Linked DNA regions of Homo sapiens: region 1 is linked to region 2. Evidence: fine-mapped expression QTL. A gene starts in region 2. The other region holds a variant in brackets. All regions are shown on one strand. Distances are from middle to middle.

What was found. PIP is the estimated chance that this variant, and not a neighbour inherited with it, causes the effect.
Region 1: its variant is fine-mapped to the expression of STARD10 in amygdala (GTEx, PIP above 0.99).

Annotation. Positions count from the first base shown.
Region 1 is chr11:73,667,062-73,672,435 of GRCh38, reverse strand. No RefSeq gene overlaps it. Among named protein-coding and RNA genes, the nearest start is that of PLEKHB1, 23 kb to the right of the region's middle. The variant GT/T (reference allele first, on the strand shown) is at 2,420.
Region 2 is chr11:72,791,566-72,796,939 of GRCh38, reverse strand. It overlaps STARD10 (StAR related lipid transfer domain containing 10), which reads left to right and starts at 2,893. Exons shown (of 7, transcript NM_006645.3): 1 at 2,893-4,065. RefSeq lists enhancers at 2,568-3,137, 4,269-4,768.

The sequences.
Region 1 (5,374 bases), 880 kb before region 2:
AAAAAACAGTGATGACCTTCAGCTAGGGTGTCTAGCTGAAGAAATTTCTAAGCAGCAAAGCATTCAAGATGTGCCATGCCTGCCTCTCACAGCCTACAATCAGATATGGGAGCAAAGGAATATCTTAAAGTTAGAAGATATATTTAAATGGGAAGAGGAGCATTAAAATTTGGAAAATGTATATCCTAGCCTTGTGGTAGAGAAGGAAAAAGCATTTTCAGGAGAGGAATACAAGCAACAGCTTGCTAGGGAAATTTATATAACTAAAAGGGAGCCAAGTGCTAATAGTCAAGACAGTGGGAAAAGGCCTCAAAGCCATTTCAGAAGTCTTTGGGCCAGTCCCTCCCATCAGAGACCTAGGAGGAAAGAATGGTTTCAGGGCCCAGGCCCAGGGCCTGCACAGCCTCAGGACACTGCTCAAAGGGCCCCAGATATAGCTCGAGGCGGTGTTCCAGCGGGCGCAAGCCATAAGCCTTTGTGGCTTTCATGTGATGTTAAGCCTGCAGCTGTGAAGAATGCAAGAGTGAAGGAGACTTGGCAGCTTCCACTGAGATTTCAGAGGATGTATGAGAAAGCCTAGGTGCCCAGGCAGAAGACTGCCACGGGGCAGAGCCCCCACCGGAGCCTTTACTAGGGCAGTGCAGAGGGGAAATGTGGTATGGGAGCCCCCACAAAGAGTCACTACCAGGGCAATGCCAAGTGGAACTGTGGGAAGAGGGGCCACTGCCCTCCAGACTGCAGAATGCTAGAGCCACCAGTAGCTTGCACCCTGAGTTTAGAAAAGCCACAGACACTCAACTCCAACCTGTGACAGCAGCCACAGAGGTGGAGCTGCCTAAGGACTTGGGAGGCCAACCCTTGCATCAATGTGCCCTGGATGTGGGATATGGAGTCAAAGGAGATTATTTTGGAGCTTTAAGGTTTAATGTCTGTCATTCTGGGTTTCAGGCTTGCTTCAGGCCTATTGCCTTGTTCTTTTGGCTGATTTCTCCCTTTTGGAATGGGAATGTTACTCAATGCCTATACCACCCTTGTGTCTTCAAAGTAAATAACTTGTGTTTTTGGTCGGGGGGTGGTTGATGGTGGTGGTGGTGGTTGTTTAGACAGGATCTTGCTCTGTCGCCCAGGGTGGAGTGCAGTGGCATGATAGCTCACTGCAACCTCTCCCTCCCAGGCTCAAGCAATCTTACCACCTCAGCCTCCCAAGTAGCTGGGACCAAGGCACGTGCCACCATGCGTGGCTGATTTTTGTATTTTGGGTAGAGATGGGGTCTCACTATGTTGCTTGGGCTGGTCTTGGACTCCTGGGCTCAAGCAGTACACCTGCTTTAACCTCCCAAAGTGCTAGGATTACAAGTGTGAGCCAATAACTTGTTTTTGATCTTACAGAAAATCATACGAGGAAGGAACTTGCCTTGAGTCTCAGAAGAGACTATGGACTTTGGACTTTTGATTGAGTTGATGCTAGAAGAGTTAAGACTTTGAGGGATGATTTTTTTTTTTTTTTTTAAGACAGAGTCTTGCTCTGTTGCCCAGGCTGGAGTGCAGTGGAGCTCAATCATTTTGAGGTCAGGAGTTTGAGACCAGCCTGGCCAACGTGGTGAAACCCCATCTCTACTAAAAATACAAAAATTAGCCAGGCGTGGTGGCGAACGCCTGTAGTCCCAGCTACTCAGGAGGCTGAGTCAGGAGAATCGCTTGAACCTGGGAGGCGGTTTCAGTGAGCCGAGATCAGGCCACTGCACTCCAGCCTGGGTGAAAGAGCAAGACCGTGTCTCAAAAAAAAAAAAAAGTTGCTTGACATCATTTAAAGTTAAATATGTTTGTCATATAACCCATTTATTCCATTCCTCAATATTTACCCACAAGACATGAAAGCATGTGTCCATACAAAGACTTGTACACAGGCTGAGCGTGGTGGCTCATGCTCATAATGCCAGTACTCTGGGAGACTGAGGCGGGAGGATCACTTGAGCCCAGGAATTTGAAACCAGCCTGGGCAACATAGGGAGACCCCATCTCTACAAAAATAAAAATATTAGCCAGGTGTGGTGGCACATACCTGTGATCCCAGCTACTTGAGAGGCTGAGGTGGGAGGATTGCTTGAGCCTGGGAGATCGAGGCTGCAGTGAGCTGTGATTTTGCCTCTGCATTCCAGCCTGTCTCAAAACAAAAACAAACAAAAAAACTTGTACACAAAATTCATAGTAGCTAGTATTGCCAAGAACTAGAAACAACCCAAATGCCCATTAAAAGGTGAATATATAGGCCAGGCGCGGTGGCTTATGCCTGTAATCACAGCACTTTGGGAGGCTGAGGTGGGCAGATCACAAGGTCAGGAAATTGAGACCATCCTGGCCAACATGGTGAAACCCCTTCTCGCCTAAAAATACAAAAATTAAGTGGACGTGGTGGCAC[GT/T]GCCTGTAATCCCAGCTACTCCGGAGGCTAAGGCAGGAGAATTGCTTGAACCAGGGAGTCGGAGGTTTCAGTGAGCCAGGATCACACCACTGCACTCCAGCCTGGGCGACAGAGTGAGACTCCATCTCCAAAAAAAAAAAAAGTCACCTTCTCACCTACTGCATTTCCATCTCTATTCTTTTTTTTTTTTTTTTTTTCTTGAGACGGAGTCTCGCTCTGTTGCCCAGGCTGGAGTGCAGTCGCGCAATCTCGGCTCACTGCAAGCTCCACCTCCTGGGTTCAGGCCATTCTCCTGCCTCAGCCTCCTGAGTAGCTGGAACTACAGGCGCCTGCAACCATACCTGGCTAATTTTTTGTATTTTTAGTAGAGATGGGGTTTCACCGTGTTAGCCAGGACGTTCTCGATCTCCTGACCTCGTGATCCGCCCGCCTCGGCCTCCCAAAGTGTTGGGATTACAGGCGTGAGCCACCGCACCCGGCCTCCATCTCTGTTCTTTAAAGGATATCTCTATGTGCAGTCCATACTTAAGGAGTTGGGATTTGTTCTTCTTTAGGGGGGAATATCTATGTAAATTGTTTGTAATTCTCCAAGGGAGATTTGTCTCTTCTCCCCCATTTATTTATTCAAATGTTCAGTAATTTATATCAGTATGGACTCATGGATACTTATTTTATACGTTGGGTTATAATCTAATACTACTTTATTTGGTTGCCCAGATTGTTCCAGCTCTTTCAGTTCTTTTGCCCCTTCGATGTACCCCCATCGATGTGCATTTGTTTTGGTCTTTTGAGTTCTTCTTTATGGCAGTATATGATGCTCCAGGCTCATCATGGATACTTCTTTATCCAGTCCTGTAATCAGCCATTTCTCCAAGGATCGCTGATTTCTTTGACTGGAGAATTGGTATTAGACATGAAGATGTGGGGCCAGGTGTGGTGGCTCACGTCTGTAATCCCAGCACTTTGGGAGGCTGAGGCGGGCGGATCACGAGGTCAAGAGATCGAGACCATCCTGGCCAACATGGTGAAACCCCGTCGCTACTAAAAATACAAAAATTAGCTGGGCATGGTGGTGCGTGCCTGTAGTCCCAGCTACTCAGGAGGCTGAGGCAGGAGAATTGCTTGAACCCGGGAGGCGGAGGTTGCAGTGAGCTGAGATCATGCCACTGCACTCCAGCCTGGGTGACAGAGCGAGACTCCGTCTCAAAAAACAAACAAACACAAAAGATGTGGGGCTAGGTGTGTTCATTTCTTTCTTTTCTTTCTTTCTTTTTTTTTTTTTTTTTGGACACAGAGTCTCACTCTGTTGCCCAGGCTGGAGTGCAATGGTGTGATCTCGGCTCACTGTAGCCCCTGCCTCCCAGGTTCAAGTGATTCTCCTGCCTCAGCCTCCCAAGTAGCTAGGATTATAGGTGCGTGCCACCACCACACCCGGCTATTTTTTGTTTTTTTGAGACAGAGTCTCGCTCTGTCAGCCAGGCTGGAGTGCAGTGGCACGATCACGGCTCACTGCAACCTCTGCCTCTTAGGTTCAAATTATTCTCCTGCCTCAGCCTCCCTAGTAGATGGTATTACAGGCGCATGCCACCACGCCCAGCTAATTTTTGTATTTTTAGTAGAGATGGAGTTTCGCCATGTTGGCCAGGCTGGTCTTGAACTCCTGACCTCAGGTTATCCACCCACCTGGCCTCCCAAAGTGCTGGGATAACAGGCGTGAGCCACTGTGCCCAGCCTAGGTGTATTCATTTCTTTGAGGCTCTCTCAGCTGGCAGATGAAGGAAATATATGTATGTACTGATGTGTATATACACATATCTGTAAATATTTCTGTATATAATCCCGTCTCTATGTCAAGCTAGACATGAGTTCATACTGATGTCTCCAACTGTAATCCATTACCACATGAATCATTCTAGCTTCCTCCCTTTGCTTATCTGTAAATTTCTACTTCACCACTGAGAAACCTGGCTTCCAGTTGATCTAGGGACTCCAATGTGCATCTTTGACTTATCAGCATATACTTAATATTGTACTACTTCACATAAGGTATTTTGTGAAAGGAAATTTACCAGAGTATCATTCTACTGTCCCACCCCCACTCCCTGTCCTCTCTGCTTTTTTGGTGTATTTTTTATTACATTCATAATTTTGCATATACTTGTGAATAATTAATTCTGTTGACTATTATTCCATTTTGTGAATATTACCAGTAGATTTATCCTGTAGAATTTAAGTTTTTTCCATTGCTGTTATAAACACTTTTCTACCTACTTTTTGGTGAAGGTAAGTACACATTTCTGTTGGGTGCACCCTAGGAGTAGAATTGATTCGTTATAATATATGCATATACTTGGCCTTACCAATCAGTTTCCAAAGCAATTGTACCAGTTTAACTTTACAGTTATTCCAGAAGTGTATGAGACTCCATGTCAGTACTTAATGTCATCTGTCTCTTTCATCTTTGCCCATTTTAATTCAAAACTTTTTAAAAACTATGTGCTGACCAGACAAAACAATTTGTGAGCCAGATGTCGTCCATAGGCCACCTCCAGATTAGAGTGTTTTGTCTATGAGGATTAATGTCTGTCTTAATGTGTGTGTGAATAATTTAAAAATTGTCTACTGGACAGCTGGAAGAATTAAAAATTCATGTTGCAGTCCTACTAGTGGAGAGATTTTGAAGCAAACTGCATCGGGAACATCTATTTGCACTCATTGCTTTGTTCATTGGGGTGACTGGAAAGCACAAATGTGGAGAGGTTTTTGGAGAAAGCCAGAACAGAGGACAGGGGATTGAAGTGAGGAAGTAGGAACTTCTGCAAGTGAACTAAAAACCTGTCCCCTTACTGGGGGGATAAAGAGTAATTTCATTTTATTTTTTCATTTCCTTCTTTTTCCTTTGTTACTCCACCATTTCTATGAAGTCTGATGCACGTGCTTTGTTGGGGCTGGTG
Region 2 (5,374 bases):
CTGTGGCCCATACTTTTTTTCCAAAGAGGAGTTTGAGACCAGGTGGGGTGGTTCACGCCTGTAATCCCAGCACTTTGGGAGGCAAGGCAGGAGGATCCCTTGAACTCAAGAGTTTGAGACCAGCCTGGGCAACATGGCGTAACCCTGTCTCTACAAAAATCACAAAAAATTAGGCTGGGCGCGGTGGCTCACACCTGCAATTCCAGCACTTTGGGAGGCCAAGGCAGGGGGATCACCTGAGGTCAGGAGTTTGAGACCAGCCTGGCCACCATGGTGAAACCCCATCTCTACTAAAAATACAAAAATTAGGCCAGGCATGATGGCTCACGCCTGTAATCCCAGCACTTTGGGAGGCCGAGGTGGGTGGATCATGAGATCGGGAGTTCGTGACCAGCCTGACCAACAGCGTGAAACCTCGTCTCTAAAAAAATACAAAAAAAAAAATTGCTGGGCATGGTGGTGAGCACCTGTAATCCCAGCTACTCAGGAGGCTGAGGCGGGAGAATCTCTTGAACCCAGGAGGCAGAGGTTGCAGTGAGCCAAGATCACGACACTGCACTCCAGCCTGAGCGACAGAGCAAGACTCCTTCTCAAAAAAAAAAAAAAAATTAGCTGGGCGTGTTGGTGTGCGCCTGTAATCTCAGCTACTTGGGAGGCTGAAGTAGAAGAATCCCTTGAACCTGGCAGGCGGAGGTTGCAGTGAGCCAAGATCGTTGCAGTGAGCCACTGCACTCCAGCCAGGGTGACAGAATAAGACTCCATCTAAAAAAAAAAAAAAAAAAGGCAAAACATAATTAAAGTGAGAATTAAAAAAAAATTAGCCAGGTGTAGTGGTGTGTGCCTATAAACACAGCTACTCAGGAGGTTGAGGTGGGAGAATAGATTGAGCCCAGGAGGTCCAGGCTGCAGTGAACAATGGTCTTGCCTCCAGCCTGGGTGACAGAATGAGACCCTGTCTCAAAAAAACAAAAACAAGGCCGGGCACAGTGGCTCACACCTGTAATCCCAGCACTTTGGGAGGCCGAGGTGGGCGGATCACACGGTCAGGAGATCGAGACCATCCTGGCTAACACGGTGAAACCCCATCTCTACTAAAAAAATACAAAAAAAAAAATTAGCCCGGCGTGGTGGCGGGTGCCTGTAGACCCAGCTACTCAGGAGGCTGAGGCAGGAGAATGGCATGAACCCGGGAGGCGGAGCTGGCAGTGAGCCCCAGATCATGCCACTGCACTCCAGCCTAGATGACAGAGCAAGTCTCCGTCTCAAAAAAAAAAACAAAAAACAAAAAAAAAACCACAAACGAACAGCCCCTGCCCTCCCCCCAAAAAAGACAAACTGCATCTCACACACAGGTGACCCCTGTGAATACAGTCTCTGAGGAGTGATGGAAGAGGAAGCCCTGTGAGAGGTGCAGACTGCTACCCTCTAGAACACCAGGATGCCTAAATAGTAGAGGGCAGTTTCATTAGCGACATCAGTTTGCAAACTGAAAAGAGACACTCTCCTGTAGGTACCAAAGGTGCTCTCTCTTTGTATAGGGAAAAGGCAGGCTGGTTGTTTTTTGTTTTTGTTTTTTGAGACGGAGTCTCGCTCAGTCGCCCAGGCTGGAATGCAGTGGTGCGATCTCGGCTCACTGCAACCTCCACCTCCCAGGTTCATGCCATTCTCCTGCCTCAGCCTCCCGAGTAGCTGGGACTACAGGCGCCCGCCACCACACCCAGCTAATTTTTTTGTATTTTTAGTAGAGACGGGGTTTCACCATGTTAGCCAGGATGGTCTCAATCTTCTGACCTCGTGATCCGCCCGTCTTGGCCTCCCAAAGTGCTGGGATTACAGGCGTGAGCCACCACTCCCGGCCTAGGCTGGTTTATGACTCACAGGGTCTGTATTTCACAATAATCATACATATTCAGCAGGTTTTGGGGAAAAGCTATACATATTTATGAGGGGATGTGAGTGCATGCACAATGGGTAAACACCTGTAACATATGTTCCATGTTCACTTTGGGATGGGGTTTTTGCGTTAAAGTGAGGTGGAATTTGGTTCTTTGCATCATAAGGTGGACTATAGGACACAAACACAGTTTGCGTGCAGTCTCTATGAGCTTGCTGAAACTGGCCTGAGGTCTGCAGTTACTTATCAGGAAAGAATGTTTGTAAGGCCTGTCCTCTGTCGATCAGCGTTGTAGTGGTCTGAGTTGTAAATCTCAGTAAAGAAGAGTCTGACAATTTGCATGATAGCTCCTATTGCTAGGGGTTTAGTAAGAGTGTGGTTTTTCTGGCAGCAGTAGAAATTTAAGAAGTTGCCATGCCAGCTGACAGCTGAGCCCTGAGGTAGGCAACGTTTGTTTCCTTAACCTTAACCTTAAGGTCCATCGTAGTTGATAAAAAGGCATCTGGCCAGGCCTGATGGCTCACGCCTATAATCCCAGCACTTTGGGAGGGTGAGGCGGGAGGCCAGCAGTTCTGGGGCCACTGCACTCCAGCCTGACAGACAGAGACCCTGTCTCAAAAAATAAATAAATAAAAAAGATAAAGGGGCATTTGTCTTGATCGCTCAGATCACACAACTAATAAGTAGCATTCTTTCTAAAAGCCGCAACAATGCTACTCCTCTCTTATAAGAGCTACTGTGTAACTCCTGCCCAACTCAAACCCACAGGCCCAGGCTCAGAACACTTGGCTCCATTGCTTCACTGTTTCCCTGCTAGCACGAACCCCCCAAACTCCATCTCCCAACATGCCGCGGGCCCCCTTTCTGTCAGCCTGACTCTTGAGCTCCTGAGAAATGTAGTTTTTCCAGCGGCCCAGCCCCAGAAAGGTCCTAGCCAAGAACTACAGTTCCCATGTGGCAATGCGCGCGCCATTCCGGTGGAATTCACCGCGGTCTCCAGTTTGCCATGATGGATGCCAGAACCTGCACGTGGGGCTTGGTGACGCGATGACTGAGATGCTGGAGTCCCCGGTCAGAAGGACGATGCCGAGCGCGCCGTATTTTCTCCTGCCTCTCCTCAGATCGCCGCCGTTGTTGGGCTGTGGAGACGTCTCAACCAAAGTGGAGCCGACAGAGGCCCCGGGAGCCGTGGTGACAGAGCGGCCACAACCACTAGGGGGCGGGAGGCAGAGCGGCCCCTAGTCCGCCCCTAGTCCGGGACCTCTGGGCGGTCCCGGGCGGGAAGCGCACGCGCAAACGCGGGGCTTCGCGGCCGCTGTAAACACCAAAGAGCGCCTGCGCAAGCCGAGAGTCTCGGGATCGACACGTGGGGGCGCCTGAGCGAAGATAACCGTAATAAATAGTAACCTAACGGTCCAGTCATCGTTCTGTGGTCCTTTCTTTTATGATTCACAAGGAATGACCCTCTTCATCGCCTCTCCTAATTCAGTCCTCACAACAGTCCTTTTACAAATGGGACAACAGGTTAGAGGAAGTCAGGCAGATTTCCAGCATCATAGAGAGTAAAGGACCAGGGAAGGATCAGGATTCAAGGACTGCACCCAGGCTCTGCTTCCAGCTTGCTGTGTGACTTTGGGTAATTTTGTTCCCTTAGGGAACTGAGCTTTCTCATTTGTAAATGCAAACAGGCTGTTGGGAGGATCAAATGAGATCCAGGGGTGAAAACAGCTTAGTTTACTTTCAGGAATTTACCCACGCGGTATATAAAGGCAAAATATTATTATAGTCAGGTGATTGTAGATTGAGGAACCCATTTCCTCATTCTGCAAATTGCAAACCTGAGGGCCCAAAGAGGGACAGGGGCTTGCCCCAGGTCTCAGCAGGCTGTGAGCAAGAGCTAAAGCCTAATCCTCCTGCCTTTGGGCCTGGAGCCCTTCCTTGTACCCCAGGGGTCAGTGTCTTTGTTGGATACAGGCTTAGATTGACTGACTGTACCCTGAGAACCTAGGGGAGTCCCTGTTCCCAATTCTTCTCCTACCCCCACCTTGGCCTGATGGAGGAAGACCCTGCTGTGTTGAGATGAGCACCAGAGCCAAGAAGCTGAGGAGGATCTGGAGAATTCTGGAGGAAGAGGAGAGTGTTGCTGGAGCTGTACAGACCCTGCTTCTCAGGTCAGTGGCCCAAGTAAGGGAAAGAACCCAGGTGTGACAGATGAGGGGGCAGCACTAAGGGGACAGACTCTGAATGGAAAGGAGTGGGAAGGCAGTGGACACTGTTTCTGAGCTTGGGAGGAATTGGGTACTCAGGTAACTCCATCTGGGGGCAGTGGAGCTGGAGGTGATACCTGGGCTGGCCTGGCTGATGAGAAGGGGAAGTGATGCGCATTGAGCTGAGGTCTAGGAGCCACTCCCCAGCCAGGTGAAGCGAGGTGGCACCTAGGCACACCATGGCACCTGCAGGATCATGCAGCTAACCCCAGGGAAGGGGACTTTTCTCTGACCCTTGGAGCGGTGGAGCTGGGCTGTATGCAGCTGATTCTCTCTAGAGTGCTCTTAGAGGTTTTGGGGGTAGGTTGGGGGAAGGGCTGGGAGACCCTGAGGTCTCATTACAGATTGGGCCTCCCCAGGCAAGTCATGAAAGGCAGGTATATGTAGAAATAGAAATCCAAGATCCTTCAAGATATCCCAGATAGGCCAGGCACGGTGGCTCACGCCTGTAATCTCAGCACTTTGGGAGGCTGAGGCGAGCGGATCACCTGAGGTTGGGGGTTGAGATCAGCCTGACCAAAGTGGAGAAACTCCATCTCTACTAAAAATACAAAAAAAAAAATTAACCGGGCGTTGTGGCGGGCACCTGTAGTCCCAGCTACTCGGGAGGCTGGGGCAGGAGAATGGCGTGAACCCGGGAGACGGAGCTTGCGGTGAGCCGAGATGGCGCCACTGTACTCCAGCCTGGCTGACAGAGTAAGACTCTGTCTCAAAAAAAAAAAAAAAAAAAAAAAAAATTAGCCAGGTGTGGTGGTGTATGCCGGTAGTCCCAGCTACTCGGGAGGCTGAGGCAGAAGAATCGCTTGAACCCAGGAGGCGGAGGTTGTCGTGGGCCGAGATGGTGCCATTGCACTCCAGCCTGGGCAACAAGAACGAAACTCCGTCTCAAAACAAAACAAAACAAAACAAAACACAACAACAAAAAGGTATCCAAGATAATTCAATGGAATTATCTGGAGGTGGATCTTGGATTCACCTCCAAGCATTTAATTATCTGGGCCTTCACTTATCATTTCTGTTTTTCAGCCAGAGAAACTGAGGCTAAAGAAGGAAAAGGACCTCTTTTTTTTTTTTTGAGACGGAATTTCACTCTTGTTGCCCAGGCTGGAGTGCAAGGGTGCGATCTTGGCTCACTGCAACCTCCGCCTCCTGGGTTTAAGCAATTCTCCTGCCTCAGCCTGCCAAGTAGCTGGGATTACAGGTGCCCACTACC